Linked DNA regions of Homo sapiens. The protein of the gene in region 1 interacts with the protein of each later gene in a biochemical or structural test. Each region holds a gene or a part of one and is shown in the gene's direction. Other genes may lie near its edges.

What was found.
Region 2: the proteins of ERBB4 (region 1) and SHC4 form a complex in vitro, tested with the Homo sapiens proteins (one large-scale study listed by BioGRID).
Region 3: the proteins of ERBB4 (region 1) and SYNJ2BP interact in a test that uses a peptide from one of them, tested with the Homo sapiens proteins (one large-scale study listed by IntAct).
Region 4: the proteins of ERBB4 (region 1) and PTPN11 form a complex in vitro, tested with the Homo sapiens proteins (2 studies listed by BioGRID, with this or other methods).
Region 5: the proteins of ERBB4 (region 1) and PTPN6 form a complex in vitro, tested with the Homo sapiens proteins (2 studies listed by BioGRID, with this or other methods).
Region 6: the proteins of ERBB4 (region 1) and PLCG2 form a complex in vitro, tested with the Homo sapiens proteins (one large-scale study listed by BioGRID).
Region 7: the proteins of ERBB4 (region 1) and YAP1 form a complex in vitro, tested with the Homo sapiens proteins (2 studies listed by BioGRID and IntAct, with this or other methods).

Annotation. Positions count from the first base shown.
Region 1 is NC_000002.12:211,377,742-211,381,340, reverse strand, and holds part of ERBB4 (receptor tyrosine-protein kinase erbB-4 isoform JM-a/CYT-1 precursor), read left to right. Parts: 3' UTR 1-3,599. UniProt on the Homo sapiens protein: Tyrosine-protein kinase that plays an essential role as cell surface receptor for neuregulins and EGF family members and regulates development of the heart, the central nervous system and the mammary gland, gene transcription, cell proliferation, differentiation, migration and apoptosis.
Region 2 is NC_000015.10:48,957,021-48,961,326, reverse strand, and holds part of SHC4 (SHC-transforming protein 4), read left to right. Parts: intron 1-4,306. UniProt on the Homo sapiens protein: Activates both Ras-dependent and Ras-independent migratory pathways in melanomas. Contributes to the early phases of agrin-induced tyrosine phosphorylation of CHRNB1.
Region 3 is NC_000014.9:70,371,460-70,375,765, reverse strand, and holds part of SYNJ2BP (synaptojanin-2-binding protein), read left to right. Parts: coding exon 1-90; intron 91-2,634; coding exon 2,635-2,775; 3' UTR 2,776-4,306. Other genes in the region: SYNJ2BP-COX16 protein, read left to right, coding at 1-90, 2,635-2,733. UniProt on the Homo sapiens protein: Regulates endocytosis of activin type 2 receptor kinases through the Ral/RALBP1-dependent pathway and may be involved in suppression of activin-induced signal transduction.
Region 4 is NC_000012.12:112,421,677-112,425,982, forward strand, and holds part of PTPN11 (tyrosine-protein phosphatase non-receptor type 11), read left to right. Parts: intron 1-4,306. UniProt on the Homo sapiens protein: Acts downstream of various receptor and cytoplasmic protein tyrosine kinases to participate in the signal transduction from the cell surface to the nucleus. Positively regulates MAPK signal transduction pathway. Dephosphorylates GAB1, ARHGAP35 and EGFR.
Region 5 is NC_000012.12:6,957,428-6,961,733, forward strand, and holds the end of PTPN6 (tyrosine-protein phosphatase non-receptor type 6), read left to right. Parts: intron 1-226; coding exon 227-358; intron 359-491; coding exon 492-646; intron 647-2,499; coding exon 2,500-2,567; intron 2,568-2,660; coding exon 2,661-2,812; intron 2,813-2,916; coding exon 2,917-3,008; intron 3,009-3,235; coding exon of another isoform or gene 3,236-3,378; coding exon 3,379-3,493; 3' UTR 3,494-3,518; intron 3,519-3,698; 3' UTR 3,699-3,889; downstream 3,890-4,306. UniProt on the Homo sapiens protein: Tyrosine phosphatase enzyme that plays important roles in controlling immune signaling pathways and fundamental physiological processes such as hematopoiesis.
Region 6 is NC_000016.10:81,907,978-81,912,283, forward strand, and holds part of PLCG2 (1-phosphatidylinositol 4,5-bisphosphate phosphodiesterase gamma-2), read left to right. Parts: intron 1-438; coding exon 439-614; intron 615-2,542; coding exon 2,543-2,743; intron 2,744-4,306. UniProt on the Homo sapiens protein: The production of the second messenger molecules diacylglycerol (DAG) and inositol 1,4,5-trisphosphate (IP3) is mediated by activated phosphatidylinositol-specific phospholipase C enzymes. It is a crucial enzyme in transmembrane signaling.
Region 7 is NC_000011.10:102,113,099-102,117,404, forward strand, and holds part of YAP1 (transcriptional coactivator YAP1), read left to right. Parts: intron 1-1,045; coding exon 1,046-1,296; intron 1,297-4,306. UniProt on the Homo sapiens protein: Transcriptional regulator with dual roles as a coactivator and corepressor. Critical downstream regulatory target in the Hippo signaling pathway, crucial for organ size control and tumor suppression by restricting proliferation and promoting apoptosis.

The DNA of each region.
Region 1 (3,599 bases):
CTGACTAATTAGCCTATCTAGAGTCTAACTTCACCATTAAACCAAAAGCAGATGGTGGTCCTTGGCCAAGAATATTGGAGACATTGGAGTTGGTTTTTTTCTAAGCTATAAGAAGTGAGGCGAGCTGAAAAAGTATGGTAGAGCAGGAGAAGGGTTTGTGAGATTCCTTCTAGTGAAGTTCACCCTCAAACTTTTCAGGGGTAAAGACACAGAGTGATTCAGGGGCCACAATCTAATAGCTCAGGGCTCTCCTATCCATTCAGAGAAGTCTCTAGGAAAAGGGATCTCATATCAGTACTTATGAAAAATTGAATATAAGCCTCCCTTTCTAAATAAATCTGCATCGAGTCATCACAGCCCTCTTTTTGGATACTATACCTTGATTTTTTTTTTCTGATTTACAATATGCATATGGTTTCTACTGGGCTATAGAAAGCAGAATCACTCATTTTGGAGAAGGAAAAAATGAATAGTTAAAACAAACTTTTAACTGTTAAGGTAACAGAAATGTATTTAGTGAATGTCTCTTTCCTCCTAAGAACACAAGACTTCTACATGTTGGGTAATACCTAGAGATGCATGTAGGAATAATCCAAAATGACCCAAATGCTTTATAATAGCACCACTTTATAATTCTTTTGAATGATTTCTGTAGTATATAATTGACTTCAGTTGTTTGAGTGTTTTTTGTTTTATTTTTGTCCCCCCTGGGAAAACATATTTCAGCATGTATAAGAGGGAGAAAAAAAGTTTCATTCCTTCCAGAGAATAACTTATTTAGTCCAGTAGGGTAGAATTTTAAAATGTCAGTTAAAGTCTTCAAAGTGCTTGGGGGGATATCAGATTCCAGAGGCCAATTGTAGCAATTGAAATTTGCAGAATCAATTATGTAAATCTGAGACAAATTAGTATTAAAATTACACGGAGTATATTTTTTAAATCACCCAACTTTGTAGATTATACCTATTTTGGGCAGGTATGGAAAAATTTTGCAGTTAAATGATTGCCTAAAGAAAGTGGTAAACAGGTGAGGAAAGATGGCCTCTGATCTAGGATAGATCCAGAACCACAAAGCATCTGCACCACAAAAGGTGTTAGACTACCAAGCAGCTCCTGGTTTTCTGCATAGTATTAGTAGCACAGCTTAGGATGAGAATCCTTTCTCCAGTAACATTCTTAAAATAGCATGAAAAACAACGCAAAACTCAAATTTCTATTAAAACACACAAACTAAAATCAAGTGATTCTTTTTTGTAGATTAGGGAGAAGGACTGAATATCTAATTTAAGAGAAGGAATAGTGTTTAAGTGTTATAGTGTGTGAGCTAATACCTTCTAAAGGAAAGACATGGCATGAAGATTGTGCATACTTACAATGCTAAGGAAAAATCAAGAAAAGGACTGTGTGAGGCTCTGCTACTAGATGAAGTTGGAAGGACTATTAATGTGCTTCTTGAAGTATCAAAAATGAAAAGAAAATTAAAATTGTTTAAGCCTGACAGGGAAGGATGTAAATACAAGTTTTTCTAGAGCTCTCTAACCTTTATTTCAAAACTGGAATTATTCATCCATCTGTAATTGTTGATAATTTAACTAGTATATGTAGTTCATAAGGTAATAGAAAAGGTGATCATGAAAGCATGTATATAACTGGACAGAACCACGATAATGCTATAAGATGTAGATTTAGTTAGGTTATCAGATGTTAAATGATTTTAATATTATTAAATAAATCAAACTAGAAAACTAACCACAAGTATAATGTAACAAAGTTAAATGCAGGATATAAAAATGTAGGATGGATTTTGCATAGTAAAAAGATAAGTTTGCCATTTAAAATTGTTGTTTGTTGGGTTTAGCTGAAAGTAGGCATATATGGTTCCACTTGGGAAAACTTGCTTTAAAGCATTACAATGAACAATTTTTTCTCATTCTCTTATTCCTTTATCACTTTTTAAATGTAAAGAAAATTGTATTTATTTATTTTTTTAAATAAACACCACCTTGCAGAATTTAATAGGCAAACATGTTACATATGACTAAGTAAGGGTCTTCAAGATGAAGTAAAGAAAATGTAAATGTTCTATTACCTTATGCAGAGACAAAAAAAAAAAGGAGTGGTGTCATTTAGCTAGCAAACAAACAAAATACAGTTAATTGGTGATATGTCCTTTCTTTTCTCACTATGCCCTCTTGCCTCCAAAAATGACAACAAAGAATCACAATTTTTCTGATAAATAAATGCTAAACCAAGCGTTTCAAACTATTGCATTGCCATTCTTTTGGACTTTAGTTATTAGAATGATGATTGTTATAGGGCAAATGAGAAATCCATGTGCATCAGCTTCTAGTTGTTAAAAAAACCAGATAAATTAACTTCTACTGTATACTGTGGGCAGAGGATCCTAGAGCTGATCCTACAACATCAGCTTCTAGTTGTTAAAAAAAAAAAAAGAAACAGATAAATTAACTTCTACTGTATATACTGTGGGCAGAGGATCTTACTGTGCCTCTGTTTGTGTACATGGACTTCGGTGTGTATCAGTTTGAAGGACAGCCTTGCCCCATGTAAACATATAAATGCAGATTGGTATCGCCTGGTTGCTATTTGCTTAAGAACAAATATTATACAGATGAGATCAGGCATAATTTTAAAAGATCATTATCAGTGGAGACCTCATTATTACTGATATTACAATGGGGCCAGTTTTTATACTTCTGGGTAGAATTAATAAAATTTTTCTGATCCCAGAGATCTGAGTTCTCTCTGCAGTTGGAAACAAGAAGCTGTTGTGGGCATTGTGTCGGGCCAGGGGCCCTTGTGTTTGTGTGGGCAAATATCTTTTAGCAGTGTGAGCTGCTTTTTTCTTTTCATTAAAAGTCTCTCTAAAATAATAGAAATTTCAGATACTCGGTTCAAGTCTCACTGATTTTGTAGAGGTCCAAAAATGTAGGATCTGTCACTTTTGCAGGCCCCTGCCTCACCTAATTCCTGGCCAGGTGACATTTTGGGCAGAAGTAAATGCTTCTATAGTCACAAGCTAAAATGACTCTAAGCCCCAATTTCACGGGGGGTATTCACATGCTTCCTCTGGAAAATACTCTTTGACAGTCAGCTTTGCAAGTAAGTGATTACCTTGTTAGGAATCAAAGAAAAATGTATTTCTCTCTGACCTTTAGAGGAAAATAGAATCCTTCCCTTTTTTGCCCATTGACACAACTGGCACTGCTCTCTTCCCTTTCTACCACCCTGGTTCAAAGTAGTCCCCCGATGCTGTCCTGTTCCTTTCTTAAGCCATAGTGGATCTCTGAGATCCTACACCCCACTTTGTGAAACACTGACTTCATCTTTGCCCTCGAATGCCTGATTTTTTCATAAGAGATTCTAGCAATTTGGACACTGTTTAAGTGAACTATCAAACTACCGCATAGAGAATATTTAAGCTATTAAAATTATGGTTTCCCATGAAGATCAATTCTCTGTGTCCTTCCCTATAGGAATTTGAGACGAGTTAGCCCTGTGATGAATCTTGAAACTCACATATGTCCACATACACTTGGTAGAACTTCGATTTAATCTTTACATAAAAGCTGTACATA
Region 2 (4,306 bases), on another chromosome or scaffold:
ACTGAAGCTCTTAAATGCCAAATGAGGAGATTGTAAATACTGTGATTGATAAATGAGAATCCTCCTAGGTTTGTAGGGCATGACTTGCTGAAAGTAATTTTTAAAAGACCAGTTGGTTGATTTATTTGACATGGATTGAAGCAGGGAAAAATTAGAGACTTGGAGGACAGTAAGAAAGATACTCTGAGAGTTTAGGTATGAGGCAATGAGAACACTGATTAAGGTGGAGAGGAGAGAAAGGAGGTGAATGGTAAGGCATTCTGTGACAGAAGAATGAGAGAAGCCTCAACAACCCTGGGAGATTAAGCAGATCATTTCAAATCATAATATAACTAATAGAGTAGTGAACATTTATGGAGCAGTGGGTAGATTGATTATTTTGTTACCATTGTTGTTTATTGGGGTTGTGATTGATTATTGATGGAGGGTTGTAAAGGGTGAAAAAAAAACTTTCAAATTGAAGTCTCAGAATGACATCAGTGATGCCAATGACTGAAGCAGAGTAAATTAGGAAATGGACTCATTTTAAGTTTGTTTTTGACATATTAAATTTAATGTAATTATTTGTAAATAATGCTAATATGTAGGTAGACAGTCATATAAAACTAGCACTCAGGCGAGATGTCTGATCTGAAGGTATAGAGAGCTAGCCCAAGAACTGTATTACAGACAATTAGGATCTCAGTATTACAAACAGACAATTAGGATCTCAGGGAAGTTCAAATAATAAACACTGGAAGGGTTACAGAGAGAGCAGGCTTGGGCAGTCCTGGCAAATGGGTAACTAAAACCTCTAAAGCAGATAAATGTATGGGACATGCAGCTCTCGCCCTCACCCACAGTGACATGGCACATAATGGAAATATTTTCATGTTTCTACTCAAAGTTCATGGGCATATTCTCATTTATCAAGATTAGGTGTGTGCCAGGCCCTCATGGGAAAACGAGTGAGTCTCCAAACCTGGGCTCTCTGCACTTGCCTTACCATCACCTACACATCCTCTAGCCTCTGCCTCAGCTTTCCTTTCCTCTTGTACCTCCTGCAACCTCCCCATACCCACACACCTGTACAATTTTAAATGTGAAAAGAGTTGCTGTGTGATCTCCAGTTTCCCTAGGGAGTGCCTCCTCTGGCGTTTTAGATTTTTAATGGGGGCACCATCTGTCTTTTCATGGCAATAATCACTGACTCCAGAAAAAGTGCTGACCCCACGACCCAAATGAACCTCACAAGATTGCCGATATCCGTGATGTCCGATACAAGCTAATGACATCTCTTATGAAGTCAAAATACGTGAAAGAACTTACTTATTAAGTTTTATAGAATCCTAACTTTGAAAGACGGAAGACTCAGAAGTTATCAAGGTCAATTCCTTAATGGTGAAACCAAACCCCAGGTTTTTCAAAGGCCACACAGATGAGTTAAAGCAGAGTGAGATCTAGAGCCCAAATCTCCTGTGTGCCATTCTTATCTGTCTTCACCACAGGTTTCCATCCTGGTTGTTGTTCTGTTCCTCAGAATTCTTTTGAGATGTGAACCAATTTTGAAAAATGAAATGCTAAGCTATTAATTTACAGTAAAAATATCATACCAAATGAACCAAAGTTGTGAGCTCTGTATTCCCATCTGTAGGAAAAAGCACATAAAAAATTTTAAATCAAACCTTGCTTGGTAATAATGGATTCATAGGAGAGAACTGAGAGAAAGATGATCTTAATGGCTAGTTGACACAGGGCTGGTGGATTTAGGGGCAAAGTTTACAGGAAAAAAGCCACTTCATATTCTACCTTCTTATCCATATCATGTGACTGCTCCTCTCCCTGCCCCAACTTATTTGCTAATCCATTCATCCATTTATTTAACAAATATGTATTATGAATCAATTATGCAGCAGGAACTGTTCTAGGCACTGGGCATCCATGAACAAAATGAATCAGTTCTAAGCATCAGTAAACAAAAGAGACCAGGTCTGAATCATTGTGAAATATTTTAGTGAGCGGAGATAGGTTCAATTGAATAAATGAAAAAATATACTATTTCAGATGGCATTAAGTGCTATGGAGAGCAATAAAGTGGGGTAAGTGAAAAAGGCAGTAGCTTGGGTGGGAATGGAAGGCATATTACTCTTGGGTAAAAAGTGGGATTGTTATAGCTACTCTTTACTTTGTTTTCTTGCATATTTTCTCTTTATGATAGGGACTATATTTTTCATCTGCGCTAAGCTAGAGTTGACTTTGGGTTAAATATTCTTTTTAAAAAATGGTTCTTCATTTGGTCTTATGATGTAGAATAAATTATATAGCTGAAAACACTTTATGAATCCTGACCACCTGTTTTGAGTAACTTTAATTGAAGCTCAGACTTTGGACCACCTGAAGGTCTCTCAGGGAAGGGGGCCTAGCAAACCATTCTTTGAAAGATATTGAGCCAGAAATAGGACAGTGAGATCCCAGTCTGGGCAAAGTAGTGAGGTGGGCAAAGCCCATTAAATGGTGTCAAATGTGACTTCATTCTCCCCATAAGACTGAGTCTCCTTTCTTTAGAGGCCTTTCCAAGTCCATTCATCCATCAGCAGACATTCATTTAAAGGTCTCCCAGGTGCCCAACATAGTGGGGAATGTGGAAAATCTACAACGTGACAGTGTTCTCCTCTTTAAAATGAGAGAATTGGCTTGAAAGCCCCCTCGCAGCACCAGTATTTAATGAATGTAGGGTTCCTTTCTCACACGGGAGGTGTTGAAAATGTTAGTTTCCTTTCCAATTCTCAACTTGGCTCAAAGACTTAATAAAGCAGAGGCAAAGAAACCAACCTTGACGAGCTTTGGCAGGTAACTGCAGTGGCCCTCACCACAACCCCCTGAGGAAGGCCGTGTTCTCCAGGTGAGGACACTGAGAGCCCAGGTGTCTGTGATCCACAGGATACTTCACAACTAGTAAGTAGCAGACTGAGGATTCCTAACCAGGTGTGTCTCACTCCAATGTTCCTCCACTTCCCAACCTCTCACTTGCCTCCAAGCAAGACAGGCAGCCTCTGAAGTATGGGAATGGAGTAGCGTAGATGAGAGGCCACACTGTGCAGGATAGCCTCATCATAGGACCAGCCCATGGAACTTGCCTTGTGATATGCATTTGCATGATTTCAGTCTCTTCACTTCAGCCCAGCCCAGCCAACTGTTTCCCAGATCGCATTAGTTTCCTAGGGCTTCTGTAACAAGTCCCACAAACTGCGTGGCTTACTACTATAGAAATCGATTCTCTCACAGTTCTTGAGGCTGGACGTCTGAAATCAAGATATCAGCCAAGTCACGCTGTCTCTAAAAGCTCTAGGGGAGGAATCTTAGAGCTCTTCCTTGTCTCTTCTAGCTTTTGGCAGTTGCCTGCAATTCTTGGTGCTCCTTGGCTTGTAGATGCATCACTCCAATCTCTGCCTCTGTCTTCACATGCATTCTCTCTGTGTGTCCATGGCCAAATTTCCCTCTTTTTTATAAGAACATCAGTCATTGGATTAGGGCTCACTCTCATCTAATATAATCTCATCTTTATTTGATGACATTTGCAAAGACCCTATTTCCAAAGAAGGTCACACTCACAGGTTCTGAGGGTTAAGACTTGGGCATATCTTTTTTGGTGGACATAATTCAACCCAAAACAGTCCCCAAGAGCATTTATTGCAATGTGTTTGCTCACATGGGCCTTCTTGGGTATCAAGCTCATCAGCTTTGTGTGCAAATAGAAATTTGTGTTGAAAGATTTTCTTTACTTCCTTTATAAATCCCACAGTATACTCTTACCATCCGTCTTCTCCTGTCTAAGGTATCTTATCACTGACCCAGTAAACTAGTATTGTCAATCATCTGTTGTCTAGACTAGATGTAGTCCACAGTACCACAATGTTACATCTACCTCAAGTAGCTTTTCCATAGGAGAATACAGGTCTAGGAGTTTGGAGACGTGCATTGAAGTAACGGCTCTGACACTAAGCTGTGTGATCTTGGGTGGGTCACTTCACCTCTGTGGGCCTCATTTTCTCATATTTAAAAGAAGTTTCAGCCAGGCACAGTGGCTCATGCCTGTAACCCCAGCACTTAGGGAGGCTGAGGCACGCATATCACTTGAGGTCAGGAGTTCGAGACCAGCCAGGCCAACATGGTGAAACCTCATCTCTACTAGAAATACACAAATTAGCCGGGCATGTTTGCATGCACCTGTACTCCCAGCTACTTGGGAGGCTGAGGTGGGAGGATTGCTTGAACCTGGGAAGTGGAGATTGTAGTGAGCTGAGATCATGCCACTACACTGCAGCCT
Region 3 (4,306 bases), on another chromosome or scaffold:
GGCCAAGACCTAAAGAACCTGCTGCACCAGGATGCTGTAGACCTCTTTCGTAATGCAGGCTATGCTGTGTCTCTGAGAGTGCAGCACAGGGTAGGTATCACTTTGAGCCAGAAACCTGGCACCAGGCTTTTGCACTGTACTTCTGAATAAGCCCAATGTGTGTAATCTTCAGTGTTGCTTTTTGTTTTACCCTCACTCCCCTGAAGAGTTTCTCAGGCAAAGGGAGGGGTCCATTGGTACTTCTGCTTATCATTGAAGGACATTCAGGCCAGGCACGGTGGCTCACACCTGTAATCCCAACACTTTGGGAGGCCAAGGTGGGCGGATCACTTCAGGCCAGGAGTTCGAGACCAGCCTGGCCAACATAGCAAAACCTCATCTCTACTAAAAATACAAAAAATTCAGGCACGGTGGTGCACACCTGTAGTCTCAGCTACTTGGGATGCTAAGGTGGGAGGATTGCTTGAGCCCAGGAGGTAGAGGTTGCAGTGAGCCAAGATCATACCACTATACTCCAGCCTGGGCAAGAGAGTGAGACCCTGTCTCAAAAAAAAAAAAAAGAAAAAAAGAGAAAAAAAAGAGAAATTCACAACAGTATGGCTTATAACCAAGGTCCTTGCTTCAAGATAATATGCCTTAAAGATAAAGCTTGACAACCAAATTAAAACAGATGATTAAAGAAAAGCCAGGTGTGGTGACTCACATCTGTACTCTTAGCACTTTGGGAGGCCAAGGTGGTATGATTGCTTGAGCCCGGGAGTTCAAGACCAGCCTGGGCAACATAGAGAGACCTCATCTCTTAAAAAAATAATAATAAAAATAAATAAAAAATTTTAAGAGTGACATGGACCAATGGAAAATAAATAAATTAATTAATTAAAAAGATGGTAAAAAAACGTAGCCAATTTTACTTTTTGGTAGGGAAGGAACCATATGTCTACCGCTGAAAACTTATTTATAAAACCATTGGATAAAACACTACAAAGATGGTGGGTTTTCTGGTACCCACTATATGCTTTTCCCTGTCACTGCCATGAACCCTTCATTTATCAACTTGGTGACCCTCTTAACCAAATCTTTAGTGTTCATAGGAGAACTCCAGGAAAAAGGAAATGGAATTCAGAATTCAGTCAAGGCAGCACCTATCCCTGCATCTGTTTCTTATTTCCAAGTGTTTTATAATTTGGATGATGATGTAAAGGGAAGCCTGGGTAGATATAATTCCTCCTATAGCATTGAGAATTTCTGAGCATATTCACAAAACAGGTTCCATGTGCCTTTAAATTAAATCAATTTGCTACTTCTTAAATAGGTGCACTCTTCCTCACTCAGTGGCTAAGGATTTAGAAGCTTAAGAACATTTAGAGGAGTTCCTAAAAAAGTAGAGAAGGCAGAACGTGAAAGATACCTGAGAAAACAACCAGTTGCAAGCAGAATCTGGGTGTAATGGATTAGAAAACAGGTTAATAAGAGATAATATTGGTCATCAGTTGCTTCTGCCTTGGCTCTTCTCTTTCTAAAGCATGGGAGCATTTGTGCAGTAGATAAAAACAAGTAAATATAGGGACACACTTCAATATGATTACAATTCTTTTGGAAGGTATGTGAGAAGTTATTTCCAGTGTTCACTTTTAAGGAAACATCCATAAATAATTCCTAATAAAAAAGACCCTTATGTTCAGGCAATTGGCCTAGCCCTAAAAACCATGCCTTCTTATTGAGCATGTCCTTTCAGGACAGCTCATCAGCAAATGAATGAAAAACATAGAGGTGGAATAGAGGGTATAATGGTATTTCATGCAGTCTTGCCTTTCAGATTGAAGTGTCAGTTTTATGAGTTGTAATGAGGCAGTTTAACTGAAATACGATGATGCCATAATTATTGCAAGTTAGCCACTAAAAGTTGATATTAAGAAGAGCTACCCTGAAAACCATCACTAAAATGAAGACCATCCAGCCTCAAAAGGAAACACTTAGCCAATAGAAAATTATAAGCACTAGGATATAATTTCTTTTTGCTTTTTTACATCTGTTCCATATAGATTCACCTTCATCTCTCTCTAGTATTAGAAATGAGCAGATGAAGGGCAAAACCCCATCTTTGGAGGGAGTTGGGTGCCTTCTGGGATCTGGAAAGCATTTTTCAAGTAATGGCATTGGACGTATGTTGGTATTGCACCTATGTTGACATTGCCCACATCTGCTCTTACTACATTTTGATGACTGATTATCTAAGTAAACATTTCCAGAAAGATCCCCCTTCTTCCTCACCAAGTAATATCCAAGTTCCCTATAAGATCATAGGTTTTATCTCATGTCTTCATTTTCCTGATACGATACACAAATAGCAAGGTAGAGGCAGTACAGAAACAGAAATTACCTGACTTGCCCTCACGGGTCCCTTTAGGTCAGCAAGGTTAAATGCCTCCCCATTAGACCTATTTTCTTTCCAAAGATCCTGTGACACTGATGCATCAGCTCAGGACAAAGAGAGGACTCCTTCTGCTAGGTATTGCTGGGGGTTACAGTTTTGGGTGGTCTAGAGTCTACAAACCCAGGTGATGTATCAACCTGGGCGTTTCAGTTGCAAACACACATTAGTCACTAGAGTTAACATTTTTCTTTCCCTTCCAGTTACAGGTGCAGAATGGACCTATAGGACATCGAGGTGAAGGGGACCCAAGTGGTATTCCCATATTTATGGTGCTGGTGCCAGTGTTTGCCCTCACCATGGTAGCAGCCTGGGCTTTCATGAGATACCGGCAACAACTTTGAAAAACTTGCTCTCTTTCAATACTCCCAATGAAGATACATTTCACTCACCCTCCACCCCTGCTATTCTGCCATGTCTTTCCCTCTCTCTGCATAGCCAGATTTGAAGTGACTGATACCCACCCCAAACCTTGCTGTTCACAGTCTCCAATTCTTCATATTCTAATGGGAAAGTAAAGGTATTGTTTGAAGGAAAACTGAAGAAAAGACTTGGCTTAGAACAAATGAGGAGTTATATATTTTACTAGGACTTTTGATAGAAATTCAGCTACAACCCAAAGAGAGAAAGATTGAGTCTTCCTGTCACCATAGGCAATACCTTTTTTCTTAGCTGGCATGCCATAAAGGCCAGCTATGTGATATTAGAGGAAGAAAGGATTTTTCTTTTTAATGATCTTCCTTGGGAAATTATTGTGGCCTTTATTTAATTTCTAACTACGTACCTGGGTGCCTATATCGACAAAGAGTGAGAAGAGCATTTTTACTTTTTTAAAAAAGCAAATACATATATACACATACGTATGCAAATATTATAGTATAATAGTGATCCCTATGGAGAATTAAAGGTGAGAAAGCTACTTTGTGGTGTCTAGGTTTCTGATAAAAGGGATGATCTTAACTGAAGAATTTAAAGAGATACTTAAACAGAGCAAATGTAGTAGGAACAAGGGAGTGAGCCTTATAAGAGGACGTTCAGTCTCATTTATTAAAATAATAACTGAGACTGGGAGAGGTGGCTCATGCCTGTAAATCCCAGCACTTTGGTAGCCTGAAGTGGGAGATTGCTTGAGTCCAGGAGACCAGCCTGGGCAACATAGCAAAACCTCATCTCTATTTAAAAAAAAAATAGAAAAAAATGTAATAACTGAAGCAACTAATTAAAAATCTTAGAAGAACAATATTTATTCTTATAACAGCCAACTATGGTGAGTTATTATAAGGTAAATTGCCATAATCCAGCGCTGCTCACATCTAAAAAACTTTGAGGTGTAAAGGTAAATCGTACCAATCTCTGGGCTGCCCTAGTGACTTTTTTGATACCTCAGAGTCCTATTGAAGAACCAGGTGGAATGATTGTGGTAAGGGCTATAGTGCTGGAGCCAAACACCCCAGCAAGAAAACTCTAAAAGGACAAAAGATAAGGTAGTGCCTCCAAGGTGGCACCTGAACCCTCTCAGGCTACTTTTTGGTTTCTACTAACAAACCTGAGGGAAGGAACTGCCTCCCTGGCAGGATGGGCATCAAATCAACTCTGGCTTCAGATTTAGTTAAAATGAGGCCGGGTGCAGCGGCTCACACCTGTCATCTCAGCACTTTGGGAGGCCGAGGCAGGCAGATCACAAGGTCAGGAGTTCAAGACCAGCCTGGCCAACATGGTGAAACCCCATGTCTACTGAAAATACAAAAATTACCTGGACATGGTGGCGCGTTCCTGTAATTCCAGCTACTCAGGAGGCTGAGGCAGGAGAACTGTTTGAACCAGGACCTGGGAGACGGAGGTTGCAGTGAGCCAAGATCACGCCACTGCACTCCA
Region 4 (4,306 bases), on another chromosome or scaffold:
CAGGCTGGAGTGCAGTGGTGCAATCACTGCAGCCTTGTTTTCCTAGGCTCAATCCATCCCCCCTCCTCAGCTTTCCGGTTACTGGGGCTACAGGTGTGCACCACCACACCCGGCTAATTTTTGTATTTTTTTATAGAGACAGGGTTTTGCCATGTTGGCCAGGCTGGTCTCAAACTCCCGGGCTCAAGCGATCTTCCTGCCTCGGCCTCCCAAAGTGCTGGGATTACAGGCATGAGCTATTGCGTCCCGCCTTCAAATTACTTTAACCTAGTATTAATTCATTCAACAGGAAGTTAATGAGCCAGGCAGGATAAAGCAGTAAGATAGGAAAATATTGCTATTTTCATGGCTGAGAGAGAGCAGACAAACACATGACTAAATAGGGCAATTTCAGGTAGTAATAAATTCTAGGAGGGAAAAAATCCCACAGAAATGTGAGGATGGGAGAATGCAGTTAGTTTTGATAGGTGGTTTAGAGAAGGTGATCGTGTGAGCTGACACCTGAATGACAATTAGTAGTCTGAATTTTGTTTTGCTTAATTATCAAAATAACTCCTCTTGGGTTCGGCTTTTATATGCATCCAGTAATTAAAATGTAAGTATATTCAATGTACTGATATCTCTCAGCATCATAGGTAGGAAAACTAAGGCATTCAGCAATTAAGTGACTCCTCCCTTGATCATGTAGCAGTGATAGTACTGGATTTAGATTTTGAGGTTGCTTCTCTGCCCTTTTCTGCCTTTGTGAAACCAACAAAGCTGCCTGTATTTTCCAACTCTTCCTTCAGCATGTGGTACCTCCTTTACATCTGTTTTTGTTGCTCTGAAATCCATACGCGACGATGAGCTGAGAGGGGCAGAAAATTGAGCTTGTTCTGAGACTGGAGGCTTTTGGTTTATCTCTTGCAGGTCAAGTACATTTTGTCCTGGGCTCTCCCTGGTGGCCACGTTTGTTTATCTCCTGCGGGAGTAAATAAACTTGCCTTGCTGAAAAATAACAGTTCTGTGTCTTTGCAGTGGAAACTGGGATGTCTTTATTAACGTTAGGTCCTGATGTAAGGCCAAGTTTTTGGTTAGAGTTGCTCAAGTGCAGAGGCCACTGCTAAGATGACTTACCCCTCGTGTCCATGGTCAATGTGGAGACTGTTATGAGTGGCACATGATGCTGGAAAAGCAGAGCCAACTCATGTTTGTAATTGTCCTAGCAGGCCGTGGTGTACTTTGTTAGGCAGCCACAGAACAATAGAGAAACTCAGCTTATTCCCCTTCCCTCTGGGAAACACAGACAGTACTTGCCATCCAACGCCAATGTTTTTAAGGAAGAAAGAGGCAAAAAGTGATGTTGGCAAGGTCTCTGGGAGTTGTGGACCCCAACCAAGGATTGGAGACCCTGAAATGGATTCAGATGCCCTAAAATGCAGCCCAGTTCATTACTATGAATTTTGGAGGACTTTGTGCCTTGAGCAAATGTGTATATGTGACGCTCTTTGACAACACTGAAATAGGAAAAATACTATCCATGTTCGCGAGGAGCACTGAATTTAGAGAGGGAGACAGACTTTTATGCCAGCATCAAATGAATTTGATAAAGCTAGTACCAAAATGAAATTTGAAATTTTTTTTTTTTGAAATAGAGTCTTACTCAGTCACCCAGGCTGGAGTGCAGTGATACAATATTGGCTCACTGCAACCTCCACCTCTTGGGTTCAAACAATTCTTGTGCCTCAGTCTCCTGAGTAGCTGGGATTACAGGTGCGTGCCACCATGTCTGGCTAATTTTTATATTTTTAGTAGGGATGGGGTTTCACCATGTTGGCCAGGCCGGTCTTGAACTCCTGGCCTCAAGTGATCTGCCCACCTTGGCCTTCCAAAGTGCTGGGATTATAGGCATGAGCTACCACACAAGCCTGAAATTTGAAATGTATTGGTATAGAATATACTGTTTAGAATGTATGTGTATATATGTATATTTGTATACTCATATAAACACAAATACACATTGTATGTGTTTCTGTAATATGTATATCTGTCTACACATACATGTATATACACACATACAATGTCTTTTTTTTTTTTTTTTTTTTTTGAGACAGGGTCTTACCCTGTTGCCCAGGCTGGAGACTGCAGTGGCATAATCTTGGCTCACTGCAGCCTCGACCTCCTGGGCTCAAGTGATCCTCCCATCTCAGCCTCCTGAGTAGCTGGGACTGACTACAGGCACGTGGCATCAAACTTGTCCAATTTTTCTATTTTTTTGTAGAGTTAGGGTCTTGCTCTGTTGCCCAGGCTGGTCTCAAATTCCTGGGCTCAAGCTGTCTGCCTGCCTCGGCCTTCCAAAGTACTAGGATTACAGATGTGAACCACTGTACCTGGCCTTTACAATGTCTATTTTAAAGATAATGGTTCAAGTTTTTATCATCCCACTGGCCTACTCTAATGAAACATCTATCCATTCATTGAAGAATTATTTATGGTGGGATAACTCTGTGCCAGGTACCGTGCTAGGCATTGAGTATTCCAGGTTTTAGGAAACAGCACATGCAAAAGTGCTGAAGTGGGAGAAGATCTCGGAGTGATTGAAGGCTAGGAGAGAGCAAGTGTGGGAGCTGTGAGGCTGGGAAGGTGGGAGGTAGGTGGGAGCAGACCACATAGGGATTCTTAATGTCTTTAGTGTCATGTGGACCATGGAGAGGAGTGTAGATTGTATTTTTAGAGCAATGCAAAATCATAGAAGGATGTGATCGGGGGAGTGGCATGAGCTGATCTATTTAAAAATATTTCTCTGGCTGCTGTGAAGGAAGGATTGTAGGAGGCAGGAGTAGATTCAGGGAGATGAGACAAGTGATGAGAGAGGCTTTGAACTTGGGTAAAAGTAGTTTGTGGAAAGTCTTTTTTGGAGGTAGTTTTTGTTTATTGCCTTGTCATCAAAGCAGAGATGCTGACCAATGAAACTCCATGAGAAAATAGTGATTTATAAAGACATATCTATGCACTGCCATTAAAAAGCTGCTTGGAAAAAAAGGATAAAAAGCTGCTTTAACAACTTTTTTTTTTGAGATGGGGTCTTACTCTGTCACCCAGGCTCACGACCTCAGCTCACTGCAACCTCTGCCTCCCAGGCTCAAGCATTCTCCCACCTCAGCCTCCCGAGTGGCTGGGACTGCAGGCACACGCCACCATGTCAGGCTAATTGTGTGTGTGTGTGTGTGTGTGTATGTGTGTGTGTGTGTGTGTGTGTGTGTGCTGGGACTGCAGGCACACACCACCATGTCAGGCTAATTGTGTGTGTGTGTGTGTGTGTGTGTGTGTGTGTGTGTGTGTGTGTGTGTGTGTATGTAGAGATGGGGTTTTGCCATGTTGCCCAGGCTGGTCTCAAAATGTTGCCCAGGCTGGTCTCAAACTCCTGAGCTCAGGTGATCCACCCGCCTCGGCCTCCAAAGTGCTGGAGATTACAGACGTGAGCCACTGTGCCCACCTAACAACTTTAAAAAAATTTTGACATTTAGTAGGATATTTATTGCATTATTGTTGAGATGGCAAAATATTGGAGACAACTGAAATGTTCATCAGTGGGGGGGGCTAGTTAAATGAAATACAGTGTAGCATGCATTAGAACACTTTTCAAGAATTTAACTTTTTTTGTAGCCTTTTACTTATAATGCTTGTCCCTATTGATGCCTTTTTTTTCAGCATGACTTACTCTTTTACTATAGGATATTAAAATTTAATTAGATTAGAAATGAGGAATATTCTTGTAATCTGTAGAAAGTAACAAACTATAAACTTATTCCCCAAGAACAAATATAATAATTTTTCTGGAGTAGCAGGTAAGAAAGATATAAATTTATATGTATACAAGAAACTGAAATTAGACTTTATACATTTAAAGGTTACAAGTGCAGTTTTATTACATGAATGTATTATCCAGCATTGAAGTCTGGGCTTTTAGTGTAACCAGCACCTGAATAACATACATTGTACCCATTAAGTAATTTCTCATCCCTCAAACCCCTCCCACCCTGAAATTAGACTTTGGATCCCTAGTTTAAATTCCACCCCTCTCTTTTTTTGAGACAAGGTCTCACTCTGTCACCCAGGCTGGAGGGCAATGTTGCAATGATAGCTTACTGTAGCCTCAACCTCCTGGGCTCAAGGGATACACCCTCCTCAGCCTCCTGAGTAGCTGGAACTGCAGGCGTGCACCACCACATTCAGCTAATTTTTTGATTTTTTTATAGAGATGAGGTCGGAACTCCTGGGCTCAAGCGATTCTCCCCAAGTGCTGGGGTTACACACATGGGCCACT
Region 5 (4,306 bases), on another chromosome or scaffold:
TGTTGAATGACAAACGGATGTACCGGTGAAGTGGCTGGCCAGGCCTCACCACCTGTTGGTGGTTGATCTGAGACGAGAGCCCAGGTCTCCTGCCTCTCTGCCAGCCCATCCGTCCATCCAACAAATGTTTGGGCCGGTGCCAGGCACTCAGAACATAGAGCAGGACCTGGGATGGGCCACAGTGCCCTGCTCTGTGCCTCATCCCCACCCGACCCTCCCTTTCCAGAACAAATGCGTCCCATACTGGCCCGAGGTGGGCATGCAGCGTGCTTATGGGCCCTACTCTGTGACCAACTGCGGGGAGCATGACACAACCGAATACAAACTCCGTACCTTACAGGTCTCCCCGCTGGACAATGTGAGTGGCCCCCACGCCCTGCCCCATTCCGGGAGTCCCTCCCTGGACTTGTTCTCCTCTCTGGTCGGGTAGGGTGAGATGGATGAGGTGTTCCGAGAGAGGAGGGGGCACTGACCCTATGTCCTCGGCTTAGGGAGACCTGATTCGGGAGATCTGGCATTACCAGTACCTGAGCTGGCCCGACCATGGGGTCCCCAGTGAGCCTGGGGGTGTCCTCAGCTTCCTGGACCAGATCAACCAGCGGCAGGAAAGTCTGCCTCACGCAGGGCCCATCATCGTGCACTGCAGGTGAGGATGATAATCCTGATGGTAGTAGTGACAGCTGAGAAGTAAATACTGCTAAGTGCCATGAGCTGTTATAAGCAATATAAACGTTAGCTCGCACATTGAGTGCCCTCCGCTCACCCCCGGCTTCTCCTGGGTCCCCTCATGGCTCCAGAACCCTGGGTGGATCGTGGCTGGAACCAGCCCCACTTTGGCCCTCTGCCTGTGGGTATCTTCCTCAGAGCCCTCTCCGGATGTACCATCTCGCCCAACCCTGCCAAATACAGAGGAGGAGCCCGGGACCCAGTTGCTGGCCAGGCCCAAGCTAGTCAGGGCAAGGCCGGGCAGGCACCCACAGTAGGCCTGTGTCCCGGCTGCTCCGCTTTCTCTCGAGGTCCCATTCTGTTGGTTTCTTCTCCCAGGAACATCTATGAGGCATGTGCTCCCCATTCCTCCTCTTTTTCCATCGGTAGCCGCAGGGCTTCGGCTTCTTCCTGACTCTGCCCTCTCTCCCAGCTTCCCCAGGCAGTGCCCCATCCTGGCCCCCAGGGCTGTGTGGGGATGGGTGATGCTTCTTTGGGGCTGCACATAACTCCTCTGTCTATCTACCCGCATGTTTGTGATCAGGAGACCTCTGGTAAGGTGCAGAGGTGGGGGCTGCAAGGAGGAGCAGGGGTTCCACAGGTGAGCCCACTGAGCTGGCCTGGCCTGGGTGGATGAGAGGCAGTGGGTGCAGGGCCCCTCCGCTTACCAGCTGTGTGGTCTTGGACAAATTACTTAACTTTTCTAACCCTCAGCTTCCTCATCTGTAAAATCAGGATCTCAGGGTTGTCGTGAGAACTCAATGAGACCCTATCGTTGTGGCTGGAATTCCGTCAGCCCTCAAAAACTGGGCGCTGTTACTAGTTTAGTAACTCACATCAGGCAGAGAATAGGGGAATGGGAACCTGCCTTGCCCCGGTCCCTTCCCACTCCCTCCGTGGACCCCAGGCCTGCGACGGCCTCTGGCTTCCTCCTCTTCCCCCAGCAGCTGTTTGTCCTGGGACAGGGCAAGTCGGCTGAATCTAGAGGTGCCCCCGATGGGCTGTCCGGGGACGCGGCTCTGTCCTGTGCTCTCTCAGGGACAGGCCCATCCCCGAGAGCTACCCTCCTGCTCACCCGCCACACACACATTCACACACTTCTTGAAAGCCCCATGGCCTTTATTTAGACGTTACAGGAAGGAAGTGGGTGTGGGGGGTTATTTTTGACAATCTGGGTTTGAAATTAGACAGCGCGACTCAGGGCATCAGCTTGCTGGGCTCAGCTGAGGGTGGGCCTGGGGTCTCCCTGAGGTCTGTTTGCCCAGGGCTGGGAAAGGAGAGAAACTTCCTACTGCACTGCTCCCCTGAGTCCCCTGACCCTGTGCCCCCGCACCCTGCTGTCTCAGGGCTATCCTTTCCCTGACGTCAGGGTTTGAAGGAAAAGGGAAGTGAAGCCATGCTGAGAGACGCTCCATAACTCCTTCAGGGAGAGGCGGGGAGGGCTCAGGGTACCTGGGAGCCGGCAGGACAGTGGTGGGATTTGGGGGTCCCAGGTCTTCCGGGGTGGGGGCAGCCACTCACTAGGAGTGAGGAGTCGGCGCGAGGAGTGGAGGAGGGAAGGATGGTGGCAGCTGGGGAGCCAGCGTCAGCACCGCAGAGCCCGAGGTGGAGCGTGTCCATGCAGAGCTGGGCAAACCTCCATCATCACTTGCCCGGTGACCCTGGGCACATTCCCTCCCATCACTGGAGGCTCAGGCTGCTCCTGTGGTGCCTGGGGCTGGAGCTGAGCGCTGGGTACCCCCCTTCCCGGGGAGGGCTTGACTGGCCTCTGATGGCACCCCCGTCTTTCCCCAGCGCCGGCATCGGCCGCACAGGCACCATCATTGTCATCGACATGCTCATGGAGAACATCTCCACCAAGGGTGAGGGGCACCTGGGGGTTTGGGGGTGGGGGGTGAGCAGCCCCTCGGTGTCCGCCTATGCCTGGACCTGAGGTTTGACTGCCCCCCACCCAGGCCTGGACTGTGACATTGACATCCAGAAGACCATCCAGATGGTGCGGGCGCAGCGCTCGGGCATGGTGCAGACGGAGGCGCAGTACAAGTTCATCTACGTGGCCATCGCCCAGTTCATTGAAACCACTAAGAAGAAGCTGGAGGTCCTGCAGGTGCGTGCAGAGCAGGGCCTGGGGGGGGGGGGGGCTGCAGTGCAGGATGGGTGCCACCTGGCCCTGCTGGGACCACCACCTTCCCACTGTCCCTCTGCCCACAGTCGCAGAAGGGCCAGGAGTCGGAGTACGGGAACATCACCTATCCCCCAGCCATGAAGAATGCCCATGCCAAGGCCTCCCGCACCTCGTCCAAGTGAGTGGCCCTGACTGCCACTGCCCGGCATCCACCCCTTTGTCCTGCCCAGCCCGATCCTCACTTTCTGGAGAGGACAAGTGTTGCAGCTGGGGGGACCTGGCTTCAAGTTCAGGCTTGGTTCTCACCCCTTCTGTTCATAAGCATTTCCTGAGTGCCCACACGTGTGGGCCTCTGCTAGGTACCAGCAGCGCACTCGTGTATGAGATGTAGCCTCTGTCCTCTAGGAGCTTGGAGTCTAGTGCAGGGACCGTGGCTGCGTCACCTGTGAGACGGGGTGGCCAGAGGGGACTGCCAGTGCCGGGTCCCCCTGTGCTGTCTCCTGACCTGCACCAACTGCCTGTACTTGCCCCCCTGCACCCGGCTGCAGACACAAGGAGGATGTGTATGAGAACCTGCACACTAAGAACAAGAGGGAGGAGAAAGTGAAGAAGCAGCGGTCAGCAGACAAGGAGAAGAGCAAGGGTTCCCTCAAGAGGAAGTGAGCGGTGCTGTCCTCAGGTGGCCATGGTACAGCTCTTCTGCCTGGGTGTCCTCCCTGCCCTGCCCTGTGTCCTTGGCTCCACTGCCTTCCCTGGGTGGATGGGGTGGCCGCAGCCTCATTCTGTGCTTCCCAGCTGCCCCAGACCCTCTTGTTCCACCTCCAGGTTCCAGCTACCCTCTCACTCCCTCACTCCCTTCTCTTGGCAGCCTCAGCCCTGACCCTGTGGAAGCATTTCGCGATGGACAGACTCACAACCTGAACCTAGGAGTGCCCCATTCTTTTGTAATTTAAATGGCTGCATCCCCCCCACCTCTCCCTGACCCTGTATATAGCCCAGCCAGGCCCCAGGCAGGGCCAACCCTTCTCCTCTTGTAAATAAAGCCCTGGGATCACTGTGTGTCGCCTCTGAGCCCTTTGCTTGCCCAGTGAGTGGGCGGCCAGAGGGCAGGGCAGGATGGGTAACTGTGTGTGCCTCCGTGCGTGCCTCGCGTGAAAGCTCCGCCTTCCGTCAGACGGACGTGGGTCGGGACTCCGCCTCGCACGTGGGAGGGTGACCGTGGGTGAAGCTCCCCAGTCTCCTTCTTTAAAATGGAGGGCGATCATAACAGGGTGGTTGTGAAAAGCACCGAGATGACGGCTGACGATAAGACGGGCACAGTGACTCATCACACGCTTGCCATGTGCCCAGGCACTAAAAGACTACACACGTTAGTTCAGTCTAGGCACTTCTGTCATTCTCATTTTACCGTGGCGGAAACTGAGGGACAGAAAAACTAAGTAACTTGGTCACTTGCCCAAGGTCACAGGGCTATGG
Region 6 (4,306 bases), on another chromosome or scaffold:
GGTTCAAGATGCTTTCCTGCTCTCTAAAGTGCCTGATTGGCCTTAGATGGAGGCCGGTGCTCTGGCTTGGTCCCATGCTTTCCTGTTGCCCTCTCCTCCAGCTGTGGTCATCTTTCCCGCTGTTTATTTCTGCAGCCCCCAGGGCCTCATGGCTCTCAGACTTCCCATAGAACAGAATGGAGGGCTTTGCTGGGAACCGTTCACTGCATGTCTCAGGATGCCAGGAGGCCACCATAAATGAGGGCTCTCAGGAGTGGGAGGCAGGCAGAGGAGGGTAGCAGGTGCTGTTTTCCCATACCCCTTCGGGTGGGGACCAGCTGAGGCTGGCCTCTCTATGTTATCTGGTACCCTGGGTCAGGGTGAGACAGAAGGACCTGTCTAGTGATGCTGGGGTTTGGTCCAAGGCTTTCAGAAACCCCTCCTCTCTTTGCGGCCCAGGATATACCCCCTACAGAACTACATTTTGGGGAGAAATGGTTCCACAAGAAGGTGGAGAAGAGGACGAGTGCCGAGAAGTTGCTGCAGGAATACTGCATGGAGACGGGGGGCAAGGATGGCACCTTCCTGGTTCGGGAGAGCGAGACCTTCCCCAATGACTACACCCTGTCCTTCTGGTAATGCCCCCGACCCAGGGAACGCCTACCTTCTTCTCCATGCCAACCGATGAGGCAGGGTGGCGAGTGGTTCTAGCTCAGGCAGGAATTGGGCAGGCTGGGACCTGAATCCCAGGCTTCATTTGTCTAGCTCTTCTAGGCCGGGACAAGGGTGAGGTGGGTATGACTCACTTCGGCACTGTAACCCAGATTAATGAGATTTCAGGGCAATCTTTTAAAAAATCAAAAGTAATGCAAAAAAGTCTGTGATGAACAAAATATGAACATTTTAAACAAAGACAAGATCTGACCCTACTCTTAGATGATGTGGTCTCACTCACTTTCCCCGATCCCAGCCCTGGAGTGGGTCATGTGGCTCTGGATGATTCAGCCAACCTTCTAGCATCTCTGTCTCCTCCATAAAACGAGGACTCTAGGGCTGTCCTTTTGAAGCCGTCATAGGCTGTGATGAGCTTGTGCATTCATTCATCCACCCACTTATCCATGTCTCAGTGCATTAAAAGATACTTCTTGAGGGCGTGCCCTGTGCTAGACACAGTACTTATGCCAGACAGACAATGTCTTTGTCCTCCTGGACACTAGCGTCTTTTGAAGGAGATGGGCAATGAAAAAGCAGTCACTCAAATGATTTGCAAGTATAGTTGTGATGAGTGCAATGAAACAAGGCAACATAAAGGGACATCCCTCCCTTTATTGGGGGGGTTTAATGTGAGTTGGGGGGATTTGTGAAAGTCTGTGAGGAAGGCTCTGATGCCCTGACGTGGGGAATGGTTAGGAAAACCTTCCTGAAAGAAGATGAGACCTGAAAGAGGGAAATTATAATTCTGTCACTTAAAAAAAAATTGTGATAGGGTCTTGCTCTGTTGCCTAGGCTGTAGTACAATGGAGCAGTCTCAGTCACTGCAGCCTCAAACTCCTGGGCTCAAGCAACCCTCCTATCTCAGCCATTTAAGTAGCTGGGACTACAGGCACATGCCACGACACCTGAATAACTTTTAAATTTTTTGTAGAGCTGGAGTCTCACTACGTTGCCCAGGCTGGTTTTGAACTCAGCTCAAGCAATCCTCTGGCTTCGGCCTCCTGAAGTGCTAGGATTACAGCTGTAAGCCATTGCACCTGGCTGAAAATTAGAATACTAATAACACGCAAATAATCCTGGACACCTAAATGATGCTTACCATGTGCTGGGCAGTATTCGAGACACCTTGTGTGTGTGGTCTCGTTTACTCTTCAGGATGCCTCTTTGAGGTGGATACTGTTATCATTCCTGTCAGACCGCTGGGGTAGTAATACAGTGTGGCTCAGACAGCACGGGTGACCTGCTCCAGGACACTTGGTTCATATGTGGCAGAGCTGGGATTTGAATCCAGGCATCCTGGCTCTAGAGAAGCAGTTATATATATAAAAGGGGGATGGGGTGGGGTGGGGTGGGGGAAGTAGGTAGAATGTTCTGGAATCCAGGCTGAGGGTCTAGCCTATACTAAGGCCCTGCATCTGGTTTTGTTGTTGTTGTTGTTGAGATGGAGTCTCGCTCTGTCGCCCAGGCTGGAGTGCAGTGGCGTGATCTCGGCTCACTGCAACCTTCGTCTCCCAGGTACAAGTGATTCTCTTGCCTCAGCCTCCCAAGTAGCTGGGATTACAGGCATGCACCACCATGCCCAGCTAATTTTTGTATTTTTAGTAGAGACGAGATTTCACTGTATTGGCCAGGCTGGTCTGGAACTCCTAATCTCAGGTGATCCACCCGTCTCGGCCTCCCAAAGTGCTGGGATTACAGGCATGAGCCACTGCGCCCAGCCTCCTGTGTCTGTTCTAGGAGCAGAGGGAAGGTTGTGTGGCCACATGTAATGTCCCCGCCTCTGAGGCCCTGGCTGCCGCAATGGCCTGGCCTGCGTTCTCCCAGCACTGATGGCGTCCTCTCCCCGCAGGCGGTCAGGCCGGGTCCAGCACTGCCGGATCCGCTCCACCATGGAGGGCGGGACCCTGAAATACTACTTGACTGACAACCTCACCTTCAGCAGCATCTATGCCCTCATCCAGCACTACCGCGAGACGCACCTGCGCTGCGCCGAGTTCGAGCTGCGGCTCACGGACCCTGTGCCCAACCCCAACCCCCACGAGTCCAAGCCGTACGTGTCTGAGGGTGGAGCAGGAGGCAGGCGGTGGTCGGGTTAGCTCCACCAGGCAGAGAAGCTGGCCTGGTGGTTCAGCCGGGCCAGTCCCCCAGGACACCCTCTCCCCAGCCCACCGGCATCTCAAAATTGCCGAGGTGGCCAGTTTCCAAATTCCTGGCACCATGACCTGTGTCCTTTTCTCTTTTCTTTCTTTCCTCCCCTTTTCTCTTTTCCCTTTCTTCTACTTTGTCTTCATAGCCCCGAGACTTTGGGCTTTGATTTTCAGAGGGTCATTTTGGCCTGGGGATATTCTCTTACCTTTCAGAGCTCCTTCCTGTTTGTTCTGAAAATGAACAAGGAAACAATGATTATAAGAGTCTCCCGCTGATTTTTTTTATCTAGTGAAATGAGTATCAAGGTAGGTCTTGCGAAGGGTCAACAAATTCTGGGAATAAAGAAAAAACAATTTTTAGGCAGAAAGCTGCAAAAATGTCCATTTCCGAGGAGGCCGTATTACTTATAGCAACTTTTTTTTTCACTTTTTCTGTCACATTTTCCTATGGATTGCCTCTTAAAACTTGCTATTTCTTATCTTAAGAAATAACCCGAAAACAACCCAAAACCTTGTGAAACTCCTGCTGTGATCTCCGTCTTCGATTTTCTGAGACACGTGGCAATAACTGTGCCTCCCTGGGAGCCTGGCTTTTCAGGTTTGGGCTGCTTGGGTGGATGAAGATGAATCAATTTTTTGAGACAAGGTGTTGCTCTGTTGCCCAGGCTGGAGTGCAGTGGAACAATCACGTCTCGCAGCAGCCTCGAGCTCCTGGGCTCAAGTGATCCTCCCACCTCAGCCTCCTATCTGGGACTGCAGGTGTGTGCCACTGTGCCCAGCTAATTAATTAATTAATTAATTAATTAATTTTGAGACCGGGTCTCGCTCTGTCTCCCAGGCTGGAGTGCAATGGCACGATCTCAGCTCACTGCAACCTCTGCCTCCCAGGTTCAAGAGATTCTTGTGCCTCAGCCTCCTGAGTAGCTGGTATTATAGGCGCACGCCACTGGGCCTGGCTAATTTTTGTATTTCCTTTTTTTTTTTTTTTTTTTTTTTTTGGGACAGAGTCACATTCTGTTGCCTAGGCTAGAGTGCAGTGGCATGATCTCGGCTCACTGCAACCTTTGCCTCCTGGGTTCAAGTGATTCTCCTGCCTCAGCCTCCTGAGTAGCTGGGACTACAGGCGCCTGCCACCATGCCTGGCTAATTTTTTGTATTTTTAGTAGAGACAGGGTTTCACCGTGTTAGCCAGGATGATCTCGATCTCCTGACCTCATGATCCACCCGCCTCAACCTCCCAAAGTGCTGGGATTACAGGCGTGAGCCACCACGCCTGGCCCAATTTTTGTATTTTTAGTAGAGACAGAGTTTCGCCATGTTGGTCAGGCTGGTCTTGAACTCCTGGCTTCTCGCGATCCACCTGCCTTGGCCTCCCAAAGTGCTGGGATTACAGGCGTGAGCCACTGTGCCCAGGCTATTTTATTTTTTATAGAGATGGGGGTCTCATTGTGTTGGCCAGGCTGGTC
Region 7 (4,306 bases), on another chromosome or scaffold:
GGTGTATCACTTTAAGGCATTAATGACTCTACTGAGTCCTTCCAGTTTCCTTACCTTTGTGAATCTAGGAAATTCTAACTTTTTGATAATCAAACTCTAATGCTAATTAAAAATATTTTAAAAACTATGCAAGATTATGAATAGTACAAATCTAGGTTGTAAATACTATTGTTCACAACACAAACTGGTGACTGTAAGTTCTTTCATATACATCCATTTTTCTATCATGAAAACTATTTTATAAAGGAGAAAACAGGCATATGGAAGTTAAGATACTTGTTCAGTGTCACACTAGCCAACTTAGACTGGAACTCAGATCTTTGGGGTCTGAATGCAGAATTTTTTCTGCTTGTATAGAGTTGTGGATGTGTGTGAGTTCTTAAGTTAAAATTGGACTGATAACATCTTTATCTTCTACATACAAAGATATAGTTGGGTTTTTTTCATCCTGTTCATTGTAGATGGCTTTTAAGAACATTTGGGCAGTTCAAATTTGTTGCTCTCATTAAAATTTGTGTAATTTGTTATGATTTCTTTATTGATGGCATTTTATCATGGTTGGAATAAATGACGAGGGCTTGATTTTTCTTGAGTTTGACCTAGAAAAAAAATTAATTACTTAAAACCTAGTAAAAAATACATATTCTTTGTGTTGTGTTTATACTTAGAACATTTTAGAACTTGGAAAAGCACCCATAACTGCACTGACCTCTTAAAAATTAGGTTTTAAAATTCACTATTATTTTTGGAATGTTTTATTCATTCAGTACTAGTTGCCCTTACATGTCTAGTGTGGACCAGGGGAAATTCATTAGATGGACTGCTCATCAATACAATTACAAACATTTATAAAATTTATATTAAAATTATATAATATTAAAAGTATCCATTTGAAAACCTGTGTTCTCCAGTGTCGAATATTAAATGTTGAAATTTTCCTTTGGTACTTAGATATTCGGCTGCAATTAAGCGCTGACTGGGAAATTTAAAGGGACTCAGTTGTGTTTTTTCTTTTTTAATTTTTCATCTTAATATTCCCTAATAGGCCAGTACTGATGCAGGCACTGCAGGAGCCCTGACTCCACAGCATGTTCGAGCTCATTCCTCTCCAGCTTCTCTGCAGTTGGGAGCTGTTTCTCCTGGGACACTGACCCCCACTGGAGTAGTCTCTGGCCCAGCAGCTACACCCACAGCTCAGCATCTTCGACAGTCTTCTTTTGAGATACCTGATGATGTACCTCTGCCAGCAGGTTGGGAGATGGCAAAGACATCTTCTGGTCAGAGATACTTCTTAAAGTAAGTGAAAATAATGGTGGGAGACAGTTATCTAAGACAAATATGTATTGGAAAACACAGTAAAGTGGTGTCAAGATACAGAATATCATTTATTTTTATGTTTTATTTAATATTTATGTTAAGCTCTGTAGCTCTATCTTCCATATATATGTTTCAGTTTGGTATGACCTAAATACCTTTGTTAGTATGGGTAATATTTTGAAAGCTTTACTGAGTCTTGGTTCTGAGCCTCTTTATAATCTTTTCTTTTGTGGAAGTTTGGTTATTCTCATTTTGAGCTTGTGCCAAACCTTTTAATTAGCCTAGCACAAAACAGAAAGAATACCATGAAAATTTTCAAATTCTGGGAATTACAGGGCTAGCAGCGTCTTACAAAATACGTATGGTGCTACTTGTATCTTTTTAAATAAATATTTTATTGGTAGAGAACTACAAAATAAGTAGGGCTTTTGGGGGAGTCTAATTTTACAGTATTTTAAATTGTGAAATGACAAGCACTACAACTGAAGCTTGATGTGACTTACCAATATTTCCCCCCAAAAATGTAAAGGGAAATAAAAATTTTTAGGTTTCATATGCAGTCGCTCAGTGGCAAACTTCTTTCAAGCTAGTAGGTCTTCACAACAGAAACCCTCCTCTCTGGGAAAACAAAAACATGACCGTTGGGTTGTTTATTTATTTTTATTTTTTCAGTCCTTTTGTGTTTAATAAAATGGCAGAATTACACTAGGCTGAAAAGACATAAATAGAATTTTCTCTCCTCTGATTTTGAAATTACAGATAAGACCTCAATTTTTTTCTGGCTTGTTTGGATCAAGTATATATTGAAATGTTGACTAAAACTAATTATGATAGACTGAAATTGATGTCTTTAAAAAAGCTCACTTAATAGTGTTTAATCAGGTTGAGATAATAAAGTGAAAAACAGTGTAAGTTTTGATTCGGATAGGTCTTGACAGTCTACTCCTAAGGCAAATGTAACATTTATTTATCATACCAGATAACACCATTAAGGATGTTTTGTTGTGTGAATCCTAGTATGTGTTTTATATTGATTGTCTTCCAGGGTGGGTTGCTACTTTGTAATGTAAGATAGAAAGTTTTGTGACAGACTTACAGAAGAGCAAAGGAAAAGGTTTGATCATGAAAAGTTCGTACAGTTTTTTTTTGCCCCCTTTCCTGCAACTTTTTCTTTTCTTTTCTTCTTTTTTTTTAAAAAAATTCATTTTCTGGTGTCCTGGTATCCATTTCAAAGGATCAGGTTTCAACCAGAACAGTAAAGGGCCTGAGACTGGAAAGTACACACAAGTCTGGCAAACTCATCTGCATGAGCAAGATCATTTGTTCTCAAGCAGACATCCAAAGTAAATGATTGAAAGAGCTGCTAGCTGTGAAGGATGTGTCTTGAAGGGGAAGGGAGTGGAAACAAACCAGGTTGTTAGGAAGAAAAAGAAAGGCTGCACTTTTTTGAACCTCTCCCTGCTGGGTCACATGCTGACCTGGGGAGATTGTTAAACAGCTTAATAGCCTGCTTTCCTTCTTTCTTTGGTTGATGCTGTGGCTAAAAGTATAAGGTTAAAGAGCAACATTTATGCTCTTCTTCTTAGTTCTTTGTATCTTGTAATAATTGCTTGTAGGTGATACCTGCCTACGATTTCATTATTTTGAATGAATGATCTTTTTTTGAGCTGAAATCAGTATTCTAGATACAGTTGGCCTTCCGTATCTGTGGGTTCAGCATTCATGGATTCAACCAACCTCTGATTGAAAATATTTGGAAACAAATTACATCTGTATTGACTAATGTACAAACTTTTTTCCTTGTCATTATTTCCTAAATAATGTAACAACTATTTAGCCTTTACGTTGTATTAAGTATTATAAGTAATCTAGAGGTGATATAAAGTATATGGGAGAATATGTATAGGTTATATGCAAATATTATGCCACCTTATATGAAAGACCAGAGCCTCTGTGGATTTTAGTACATGTAGGAGGTCCTGGAACCAATCCTTGACCACAGATGCTAAGGAATGACTATTCATTTTTCAAAGTTTCCAGTGATTCTTCCTTTGTGAAGAAATGTTTCTCTTAAAGGTATTGATATATGTAGATGGATTAATGAAGGGTATATACCTTCCAACCCCAGTCACCTCAATTCACCCCTGTCAACTATGGGCCTGTAAGGAAGATAAACCAGGCTAAAATAAATAAATCTCAAATTATGTCATAGGAGAAAAGGTTGCAAGGGTAGAGAGATATTTACCCGGAAAAGAAAAAACTGGGAGGAGGAGAGATAAGACATGATTGTTGTTTCAGTGTTTCTGGGGAACTTTTATGTGGGAGTAGGATTAGTCTTACTATATAAGAAATGTGAGGAATTTTGATTCCATGGAAGAATTTTCTTATATAAAACTTTTAAGAACTAGAAGAGTTTTCCTGGACAGGTAAATCTTGCTCAATAAATGTAGGTAAAATCATGGTTACTTGGTATCTGTCAGGGATTCTATGGAGGCCCCTAAACATTGGATGTGGGAGAAGAATGCTGTGGGCTTATAAAATTTTGTATTTTAAAGAGTATCTGCTTTATGAACATTATGCAATTTGGAGAAAAGTTATGAAATAAGATTATTTCACCTTCTCCAGTTAGCTACTTCCATGATGTTATGGACCGTATAGTTGTTACAACTTCTTTTTGTGTACTGAACAGACAAATGAGATTAATATCCTAACCATTAGTCAAAGATGATGATAAACTAAGCTTTTGGTGCCAAGTTTCTGTTGTCAAAGTTCATTTTTATCCTAGTTTTGATGTTTTAAAATAGGGCTGTCTTTGTAATCAATATTTATATACTTTCCTCTTGTATCTAAAGAGGAGTGTTGTTGTCATCAGATGTAGAATGAAGATTTAAATTAGTTGCCTTACACTTGTTTCCGCAATGAAACATTTTATTTTAATGCATCTTTTTAGATATTTGTTGGAACTGACTTTTAAGTTACAAAGTCTATA